Linked DNA regions of Homo sapiens: region 2 is linked to region 1. Evidence: fine-mapped QTL for protein levels in blood plasma. Region 1 holds a variant in brackets. A gene starts in the other region. All regions are shown on their reverse strands. Region 1 overlaps HPR (haptoglobin-related protein). Region 2 holds the start of SPARCL1 (SPARC like 1).

Evidence for each region. A credible set is the group of variants that fine-mapping cannot tell apart. PIP is the chance, under the fine-mapping model, that this variant and not a neighbour inherited with it causes the effect. Protein levels are from antibody-based Olink assays in UK Biobank. Linkage for the fine-mapping came from a reference panel and not from the study's own genotypes, which makes the PIPs less certain.
Region 2: SPARCL1 starts here. The variant in region 1 is the best candidate, but not a certain one, in a credible set for the plasma level of the SPARCL1 protein (UK Biobank, PIP 0.77).

Annotation. Positions count from the first base shown.
Region 1 is chr16:72,068,998-72,074,382 of GRCh38, reverse strand. HPR (haptoglobin-related protein) reads right to left here. Exons shown (of 5, transcript NM_020995.4): 2 at 406-491; 3 at 1-99. Among named protein-coding and RNA genes, the nearest start is that of HPR, 8.5 kb to the right of the region's middle. The variant A/G (reference allele first, on the strand shown) is at 2,317.
Region 2 is chr4:87,527,502-87,532,864 of GRCh38, reverse strand. It overlaps SPARCL1 (SPARC like 1), which reads left to right and starts at 3,489. Exons shown (of 11, transcript NM_004684.6): 1 at 3,489-3,820.

The sequences.
Region 1 (5,385 bases):
CTCCTTCTGTGCGCAGTCTGTAGTAGTTCTTACACTGGTAGCGAAACAAGTGCTCCACATAGCCATTTGCAATCTCAGGGGGCTTCGGGAAGCGGTCATCTGCAAAGAGAGAGAAGCCAGAGAGTTTACCATTTGGAAATTGTTCCCAGAGACCCATGAAAAGTCAGATGAGTGGAAGCTGCTCTGCACATCAATCTCCTTCTACCCCAAATAGAAGCCAACGAAAGCTCAAGCTCCCCTCATTTCTGGCAGGATCCCCAATGTTCTTGGCAGTCCTGAAAGCCCAGAGGTCAGGATAAGAATGGGGAACTGTGTGTTCTCAAAGAAAGAATGCAGACCCGAGAGAGTCAGAGTGGGATGTGGCAGTGCCAGGGATGCATGCTCCTACCCAACTCAAAGACTGACCTGAAATATCCGTGACATCATTGCCTGAGTACAGTGCAAAAAGCTGTCGTCCCCAGAGCAGGAGGGAAATGACAGCTCCCAGGTCACTGCAGAGAGAAAACAAGAAGGAGCGGAAAGCTGGTCTCCCTGCTTCACAGCACATGCATGCATCCACACACACAGGCATGTACACACACACACACACGCACACACACACATGCATACACACACACTCCTCCCACTAAGCAGCCAGAAAAGAAAATCAATATATGGAAGTGCTAGGACCAAGAAGTTGCCCCCACCCTCCGCCCCACATACACGCTTTAGCTGCTTCTGAGCATACCAAGCTTCCAGCAAGCTCTGTCTTGCTGGGAATTCTGCAGAAGCTTCAGAGAGGGATAGAAAGGTACATAGGTATAGGGGCCTCAGTTTCTGGCTGCAGTCAGGAAGGTACATTGGCAATAATTCAGAAGCCCTCCAGGAAAGAGAAACCTCCCTCAGTCACCCCAAAGATACTTCTAATAAAATGTAGATAACTCAAAGATGGGAACAGAGGGCTTAGTATGCTATTCCCTCTACTTCTTGAAATTTTCCATAATCAAAGATTCCTTAAATATATAATTGTTGAAAACAAATGCTTGGTGCTGCAAAGAAGAACTAGCACTGAGACAAAGGACAAAGGGTCTCTCAGCAAGGCAAATTTACTTTTGCATAAGGTTGCTCCTCATAGGTTCGGTTGCCACGAGAGCACCCCGAACAAAGGAAAGCAGAGGTTTTTATGTCTAACGCAGCTTGTCCCTGCTACTGTATCCTGACTCCATTGGCTAGAGTTGGACCGTACAATCTAAGCTGAACCCGGTTGGCTAACTTGAAAAGTGCAGGAATGTGATTACACTGCTGGGAAGGCAGGAAGATCAGTTTTGCCGGGAGAAGCCATTGTGATGGGAGGGGTAATTCACAGAGTGGGTAGCAGATGTGGAATGTGGGCTCTATAGATAACGACTGGCGGGAAGGTTGTTTACCAGCGCAGGGAGAACACAGAGAGTAAGGAAGTCTGGCCTTGAAAGCAGGGAGCAAAGAACAAGGAAACTTAAGCAAGCTGAACCTTTGAAGAAGAATTTCTTACTGTATTTAACAATCCCCCTGTTAAATATTTTACAGTATTTTTTCTTTAAACCCTTTTAACATAATTTGGCTCTGTTATTCTACTTGGGTCTTCTAAAAGAAAAAGCTCACTGGAACGAGGAGGAGGAGGATTGAGGGAGGTTTTGGGGAGAGCTGTTTCAATGAGCTTTTGTATTAATCCTAGGGCACAGGGTATGACACAGCATCCTACAAGAATAAGCAACCCTATTCTGATGGCAAGAGACATGAGGATTGAGGACATAAATCCCTTCCATTTGCCAAAGAATTTCCCATTAAATTTGTGAAGGGGTCGTTTAGTCCAGAATTTTTGGCTAGCTCATTTGATAAGGCAGTAAGACCTTGTAGTGCTTTTGGTGTGATCCCACCTGGAGTAGTATTATTAGGGATAAAAGTATAGCATCGGGTTCCGATAATGACACAATCTCCACCCTCTTTCGCTGGTATCATGTCTAATGCTATTTTATTTTCCCAGGCCATTTGACTGGTGGGTCTTAATTGTTCAGCTGTCCCTTTAAGAGCATCTCTAGTATAATTAACAAATCATAGGCTGGGCACAGTGGCTGATGCCTGTAATCCCAGCACTTTGGGAGGCCGAGGCAGGCAGATAACCTGAGGTCGGGAGTTTGAGACCAGCCTGACCATCATGGAGAAACCCTGTCTCTACTAAAAATACAAAATTAGCCAGGCGTGGTGGCACATGTTTATAATCCCAGCTACTCGGGAGGCCGAGGCAGAAGAATTGCTTGGACCCAGGAGGCAGAAGTTGTGGTGAGCCGAGATCATGCC[A/G]TTGCATTCCAGCCTGGGCAACAAGAGCAAAACTCCGTCAAAAAAAAAAAAATCATCATTGGTTGTAATAAATGTAGTTTATCTAATTCACATTTTTATTTATAGTTAACCACCAGAAGAACGTGGATTCAAATCCTGCAGTTGTCTGATTTTGGGCCTTAAATTCATCTGGCACTCCTCGTTGGACTCCAGTGGAATCTATATAAATGTGGGAGTCAACAGACCCATGAGGGGCCTCTCTTGTTTTACAGTGTTTGGTTTCTGTCTTTTCTGGTTGATGAAATGCCAGGGTGAAAGGGATAGCCAATGGAATTAGAGTGCATGTTCTGCTCCAGTTACTCGGCAGTGTCCAGTAATGGTCCACCACAATACCACCATACATCCGCTCGAGGATGACTAAGGGCAGACTGATGGGTAAGCTCTTGGAAGGACTTAAGCTCACTGCATCCCATTAAGGCTCCAAGGAACACCAAGTTTTCTCCCTGTTGTGAGAGACACAAAGTAAAATTGGCATTGGGAAACGGAAGCTGATGGCCCTCGGGGGCTGACCCTCAGGGTGTTGAGCTTCAGGGAACAGCAGAGAAAGAGCTTGACATGATTTGTCACCCCAGGCTGTGTGATCTTGGAAGAGAACTACCATACAGCTTATGCCCGGTCAGTTAGAAGACCATCTGAGTGGAAAGGGGACAATCTGGGCCTCTGGTCTACCGTGAGCACAAGCATAACATTCATATTTGTTTAAAGTGCAGATGGAATATTTAATCCATTTTAGCCAAGCATTTGCATCTTGACATCCTGTCTCTAGGGCTATAGTCTGCTTTAAATTTTTTACCTTTACAACCGTTACTTTAGTTGGGTTGTTTTGGAGATGGGAGGAGGACGCTGAGCTCGCTATACTTGGAGAGAGTGTTAGATTCCACTCGTTTCCCAGACTCTGGGTGTGGATTTTTTTTTAATTATCATTGTTAACCAGTGGTTGAAGATTTTTATGGGATTTTGTTTTGTAACATTTGCTCCTAATCCATACTGTTTGAATATAGTGGGTTCTTGGGCCATTGTTTGGGGGTTAGCTATAATTAGCAATGAGGGGTTACACTGCAGTGGCTTACAGTTTGGTGGGGTGGGACCATGAATTAGTTGGAGTTTCTGTTTTAGTCCCCATAACTTATTTGAAAAAGGGGGCCTGGCTGTCCACCCTCCATACTGAGTGGTTTCCAAACATCTGTCCAGTCACCACAGGGACTTTTTAAGGTTCTATACTTATACTTGGTTGACTTTTTATGGTATGGACATAGGTACTTATCTACATGAGACAGCTTCCTTTGAGCTTGCTTGTCTCCACACAGGATGACTGAACAAGCATCAAACTGAAGGATTAAAGGATGGTTAGCCCAAGTTACATTGATGACAAGATGACCTTCTGTTGGAAAGAAAAGAAAAAATAAACAAGTGATTATTAAGCCCTTTTTAGAGTTAATTTGGTTGGGGTGAGCCCTGGAGTGACGGTTTATGATCCTGGAGGTGGCAGCGCCTTTTTGACGCGGGTGTGATCAGTCCATCCTCATTCTGCTGTTCGGACTGCAGTCTTAGTATTTAGGAGCACCAAGTAGGGTCCTTCCCAAGCTGGTTTGAGTTTGCCTTCCTTCCACCCTTTTATGAGGACATGGTCTCCAGGCTGACGCTAATGTGCTGGAAACTCCAGCGGTGGCGCCTGTGCTAGGAGACCTTTAGTCTTAAGGGAAGAGAAAGTAGAGTATGGACCAAGTATATAATTTTTGAGGAACTGATCTTTTATTTTGAATGTAGGAATGTTAGCAGTGGAGTATAAATAGGGCAATCCATAGAGCATCTCATAAGGGGAAAGGCCAGTATCTCTCTGAGGAGCAGTTCGGATTCTTAACAAGGCAATAGGAAGACATTTAGTCCATGGCAATCAAGTTTCTAGAACTAATTTAGTTAAGTGGCTTTTTAGAGTCTGATTCATCCTTTCTACTCTTCTTGAGGAGGAGAGATGCCAAGGGATATGGTTTTTCCATTTTATGTCTAGTACCTGGGCTAACTTTTTAATGACATATGCAGTGAAATGGGTTCCATTGTCTGAATCAGTGCTTTGTATTAGTCCAAATCTGGGTACAATGTTTTCAATTAATGCCTTAACTACGTTACTGGTGGTTGCATTTGAGTGTGGGATAGTCTCTACCCAGTAGGTAAAGTGGTCTATTATTACTAATAAGTATTTTAAATGACCAATTGGGGGCATTTCAGTATAATTAATTGAACACTTGGAAATGGTCTTAGCCCTGAATCTCTTTCTCCAAGGGGCGGTTTTCTTAGAATCTGCTTACTAGTCTTTTTACATATTAAGCAACTATCTGTAACTTGTTTGGCTAGGGTGTAAATTCTTATACATCCATAGACCCTGAGAACTGCATCGCACATGGCTTGGGATCCCCAGTGTGTCCTCAGATATAGTTGAGACTAGATCTTCCACATAACGGGCTTGGATAACATTTCCTTTTGGTCTAGTAACAGCCGTTTTCATTCTGGTCTTCTCCTTTGGCTCCTATCTTTATTCTTCTTTTTCAATGGAAGAGAAAAAGGAAATTGCAGTAGGGGAAGGAAGACAAGGAGTTAAGTGAAACATAGGTGTTTCGGAGGAAACAGCAGCTTGTTTGGCTATCTGGTTTGTTAGGTTATTTCCTCGACTTTCAAAAGAAAGGCTTTTCTGGTGCCCGGGTACACGGACAATAGCTATTTCTTCTGGCAACTGAAGGTTATCCAGTACTTGGATGATTAACTCCTTATGAACAAGGTCATGACCTTTACTATTAGTGAGGCCACATTCAGTCCAACTTTTTCCAAATGTATGAGCCACTCCAAAGGCATACTTAGAATCAGTATAGATGGTTCCTTCCTGGTTTTGCAAGTGCTTTAAGGCTTGGCTGAGTGCAAACAGTTCACAAGTTTGGGCAGACCAATTATTAGGCAATTTTCTTGACTCTGTTCTTATACATAGAGAATTTCTCCATCGATTACTGGATACCCGTTGTGTCTTTTTCCCTCAATCAG
Region 2 (5,363 bases), not on the chromosome of region 1:
GCTGAATTATTTCCCCCAAAATTCATAAATTGAAGTTCTAACCCCCATTGTCACTATATTTAGAGACAGAGCCTTTAAAGAGGTAAATTAAGGTTAAATGAAGACGTAAACGTGAGGATCTAATCCAACAGCACTGGCGTCCTTATAAAAAGAGGCAGAGACACCAGAAGCACACATGCCCAGGGGAAGGACTGTGTGAGGACACAGTGAGAAAGTGACCATCCACAAGCCAAGGAGAGAGGCCTCAGGAGAAACCAACCCTGCTGGCACCTTGATCTTGGACTTCCAGCCTCCAGAACTGTGAGAAAATTAATTTCTGCTGTTTAAGCCACCCAATTTGTGGTATTTTGTTACGCCAGCCCTAGGAAACTAATACATTGGGTAATCAAGGAAGAGGGTCCTACAGGCCAGGTCCTGGCCAAGATCAATACAGACACTCTGTTTTTACTGCAGCTTTTTCACTCACCCATACTTACCTCCTTCCTGGGGATCTCCACTATTCCAAAAGAATCATGTGACCTCTGACAATGAGCATATGCCTTGGCTCTTGGACTCCTAATAGGCAGGAAGTACATCTTTGATATCACCCAGAGGCTTCTGCTATATGTAACAAAGAAGTTCTGTATATGCTTGAGGATTAATTAACGTGTTCTCTGCTCCTTCCCCTGAATTAGGGGTTTTTAACTTCATAGAATCCCTGAGAGGATACTGGGGGGGAGTTTCATAGATGGGTTTTAGGAGCTTGCCCACAGCTTTCATCAGATTCTCAAAGGGAATCCTAACACTAAAAGGTAAAAAAAAAGAAAAAAGAAAATCCATTTAGATGTTGACATCTGTCACATCCTCTGACCAACAGTGATGTTACGTCTCTTCATGTACAGTAACATAATGAGCTTTTTGTCAAACTTTTCCCAACCCATTTGGACGTCTCATACGTTTTCTAAATCTGATCTGTAGCTCCATCTGTTAGGTGAGTATTGTTGCAGGTTTATTGTCCTCAGCTTTCTGAACTGTAAACTATTTTAGAAAAAACAGCTTCAGAAACAATGAGAGTTTGAATATCTGCCAACAAACATTTCCAAATAAAGCTATACTGAAAAGACACCGCGAATTCAAAGGCCTTTTTTTATTCATTTTTCTCTCTTGTTTTGTTGTAAGAAATACAGTGGGTCTTTATTAATCATGTTATAAATTAATAAGACCTCCAATAAAACTGAAAGTCAAAATTCTCAAGCTTTGCCACCTACAAATGAACTCTCTAGGTACCTATTTACATTTAAGAGATGAATCCAGTTTGCTTTAAGTAATTACTTTTTAGGTTAACACAGTTACATAAGAAAATTTATTTTGATCATTTTACAGAAGCATAAAATATCAATTTTAGCAGAAAAAAATTTTAGTCGGGTAACTTTTTTTCCAGAGCCCTTTAAATGAAATTTTTTTCTACATTCTCGTTGAATTGATGTAATCACCTGAAATCAATCTTACAAAGCCATCTTAAATAAATGGGGAATGCTAGTTAGAATAAGAAGTTAATATTTTGGGTCCCCAAGAAAATTTTCTTTAGCCAACTAAGGCCAAATCCTCAGAAATGCTTTTCTTACTTATTCTGCAATAGTCTCACTGCTCCCAAGCCCCTTGGGAGACTTGGAAAAATGGTCTGTGTCTTCCACACTTCTCAGAGCAGATGTGCACAGAGGATGTGCACACCAGGGAGAAGCATGGTCAAACACTGCCCACCCCTTTATCCTTCCTCCGAGGAGATTGCTCAACCCCTAGACCTTGGCTAAGGAAAAACATCCTATTGTCTGAGGCAAAAAGACATCAAGTCCTTTCATGCTGTCCTGGGAAAGGCGGTTTGGAACAAGTTATCCTGATTCTAGAGACGTGAGTGTTCCCAGCTGCACCGTGACTTGTTTTTGGCTCCTAGGCAAAGTGCCCAGTTTCCTCTGCTCCCAAATTTCTCCAACTGCAAAGTAGAGATAATCCTTGTTACCTTTTTCTTGCAGTGTTCTGAAAATAAATAGGGCAAATAATTCTAAAGTGTTTTGAGAGATTTGGCTGAGGGCATATTTGCCTAGAAATGTAGGTGGGGGTTTTTGGTTTATTTTGGTTTTATTTTGTTTTTGTCAGTGTTTTTGCTTTTGGCCAGACGTTGGCATGCATTTAGAAAATCTAAATTAAATTAAATTAAATTATAATTATTCATCTGATGATAATGGAACATTTACAGGATGCAAAGCACTGTGCTAGGCACCAGGAGAATGCAGAAAGGGCACATCCCCTTCCTTCAAGGAGTTTACAGCTTTCTCAGAAGCAGGTATGATATATATATGTGTCTATATCACATAATAGAGGGATTATAGATAAGTTACACAAGTGTGGCTGTCAGCCATGGTAGCTGATTTGGAATCCCATCCTGTAAGTTACAGTTGGATACCCTAGAAAAAACACCCTTACTAAGCTTTGGTTTCCTCTTATGTAAATGATAATAGCTAACATTTATTGAGTGTCTGCTACGTGGCAGGGGTGTTCTATGCAGTTTATCATGTTAACTAACTTAAAACTCAGAACAATTGCAGAGATAGATATTATCATCATTTCCATATGTATATCCCTGTCTTATAGATAAAAGCACTGATGCTTTAGAGAGGTTATATAACTTGTCCCGGGTCATAGTTAGGAAGTGGTGAAGATAGGATGCAAATCCAAGCTGGCTGGCCTCAAATTCTGCCAATCCAACCACTGTATGACACTACCCCTCAAATGGGAACACAGTAAAACTTACCATGCGTAGTGAGGATCAACTGATAATAACGCATAAAAAGCTGTTAGCACAGTGTCTGACACATAATAAATGTGTGATAAATGTAGAAGTAGCAGTAGAAGAGATTAGACACATACAAACAACCAGAATCCCGGGCCAAAAATAAGTGCACACCTCCATTCTTTTTATGGGAAACCTCCTTCTTAGATACCAACCATTATAACCATGGAGTTACAGTGGAGAGCTGTGTTGAGGGGAGAACTGCAACATTTCTGAATCAGCATACAAGTGATCTATAATATAAGGAGCAATCATTTTTATATATGTCCATTTCCAAATCTCATTCAAAGAAGGTTAAGGTATCTGAAGTACCCTTCTATTAAAATTCAGACTGTATTTGCTAGAACAATTTCCAATTGAGCAACGTAAAAATGCATCTGCTGCCATTTCTCTTCTTCCCTCCTTTAATCCCTACTCCCCAATTTCCTTTAGAAAGAAACAACAGCATGGAGTTTCTTTTCAAGGTCTTAAAATAAAAATCTCCAAAAAAGGGATGCTGCTTATAAAACCTTTCAGAGTTGTTTGAAAAAGAAAAAAAATGCATAAAGAGCCAAGTGCTTATATTCTGGCCAAGTTATGAGGCTCTGAGAACAAGAGCTTGAGGGGAAGACTGTTAACCCCATCCACGCCACCAGAATTAGCTCTTTCCCTTTTGGTTTGCAAGCACTGCCTGTAAAGCCCTCGCATGAGAGGCCAGCCTGCTAGGGAAATCCAGGAATCTGCAACAAAAACGATGACAGTCTGAAATACTCTCTGGTGCCAACCTCCAAATTCTCGTCTGTCACTTCAGACCCCCACTAGTTGACAGAGCAGCAGAATTTCAACTCCAGTAGACTTGAATATGCCTCTGGGCAAAGAAGCAGAGCTAACGAGGAAAGGGATTTAAAGAGTTTTTCTTGGGTGTTTGTCAAACTTTTATTCCCTGTCTGTGTGCAGAGGGGATTCAACTTCAATTTTTCTGCAGTGGCTCTGGGTCCAGCCCCTTACTTAAAGGTAAGTTGTAATAAATTTACGGCATTATCTAATTGCATTTGTTAAGCTGATTTGCGTGATCTGATAAAGCTGTCAAATATTTTTGCCTAAATAATACAAAGCCATTTATTTACCAAAAAAAGTTTTGTGTGATTTACAGAAAAGATACTTCATAGAGAATTTTACCATTTGTATTCATGTTTTCTTGTTTCCTGCGAAATTAAATAGCAAGTACTAATAAATGATGGTGATTTTAGTGAAGACCAAGAATAGAAATGTGGAACTGTTGATCGCCTCAGTAGCATTCAGATCTTAGTGAAGCCTGAATCCTGAAATGTGTTTTGTAGAAGTACTTTATTACATATATGAAATAAACTATAAAGAAGGTAGTTTTTAAAAAAAATTTCAAATCAAATAATTTGTATGTTTTCCATGTTTAAATTATCTAAAGTTATTCAATCTCCTGAGCCTAACAGCAATGTAGAAACGGAACTTTTTGCTTTTCCAAAAGGTAGGAAAATTTCTCCTTTTATACTATATTCTTGTTTGATTATTTTTAAGTTATTGCGATTATTTTCCCTTTCTTGGTTCCCTTTTACAGCTTTATAACTAATTATTTTTTGCCTCCTACTATCATTTGTTAAGATGCTCACACATAGACCTAAAATTTCTCTAATTCTTGATAATGTCTTATTTACAAAAGCAAAAATGGGAGAAGAGAATTAAAGAGCTAAAGAGATTATGGTAACTCATATTATAATGTACTACCATTTCTGGCTCTCTTTTCTAAAATAAAGCAATAATGTAGGTTGTGCTTATTCATCCTTCCCAGGTATTAAAGGTCACTCTGCAAGAGAAAAAAAGAAAAGAAAGGAAAAGAAAAGAAAAAAAAACATGCTTTTAACTGCAGATCAATACTGTTGAAACAGTACACCAAGAGGTACTGCAGAAAGAGTATCTCTTTTGCACTGCCTTTAATCTGCAAAGAGGTTAAATATGTCACCTTGGCATTGTATCTGAGCTCTCCTCTGGCCCAGGGCCTAAGCACATTGAATAGAAATGTTCACTCAGTCCAAGTCAGCAGAAATCTTTTTTTTTTTTATTCTCCCCTTTCTCGTAGACACCAGCTTTTTTCAGTTCACAGCTTACTCAGTCAAACCTGATGGTTGTGACTATTGTTAACTATGATTTTTTTTTTATTCAAAACACCCTCTTTGGAAAGATTTAAGTTAATATTTCTGTTCATTTAATAAGATCTAGCAAAGCAGAGCAGTTTATTTCATCTACTTATCGTCCAATCAACTAGTGCCACTTTCCACATTTTGGAGAAGAATATTCACATGTTATTTATGAACCTTGCCTTTTTCTTTCAGAGAATTTTTCACACAGCCATTGAGCAATTAGAGTGCTGGCATTTCCTTCCTAGGTCTTTTGAGATTTAATCCCCAGTAGCTCCTCATGGCACAGATTCACATATCAACTAAGTAAAAATAATAGTGATGACAGAAATAAAATGAATAGTGATGCATCTGGACAACTTGAAAACATTATTTATTTCATTTCC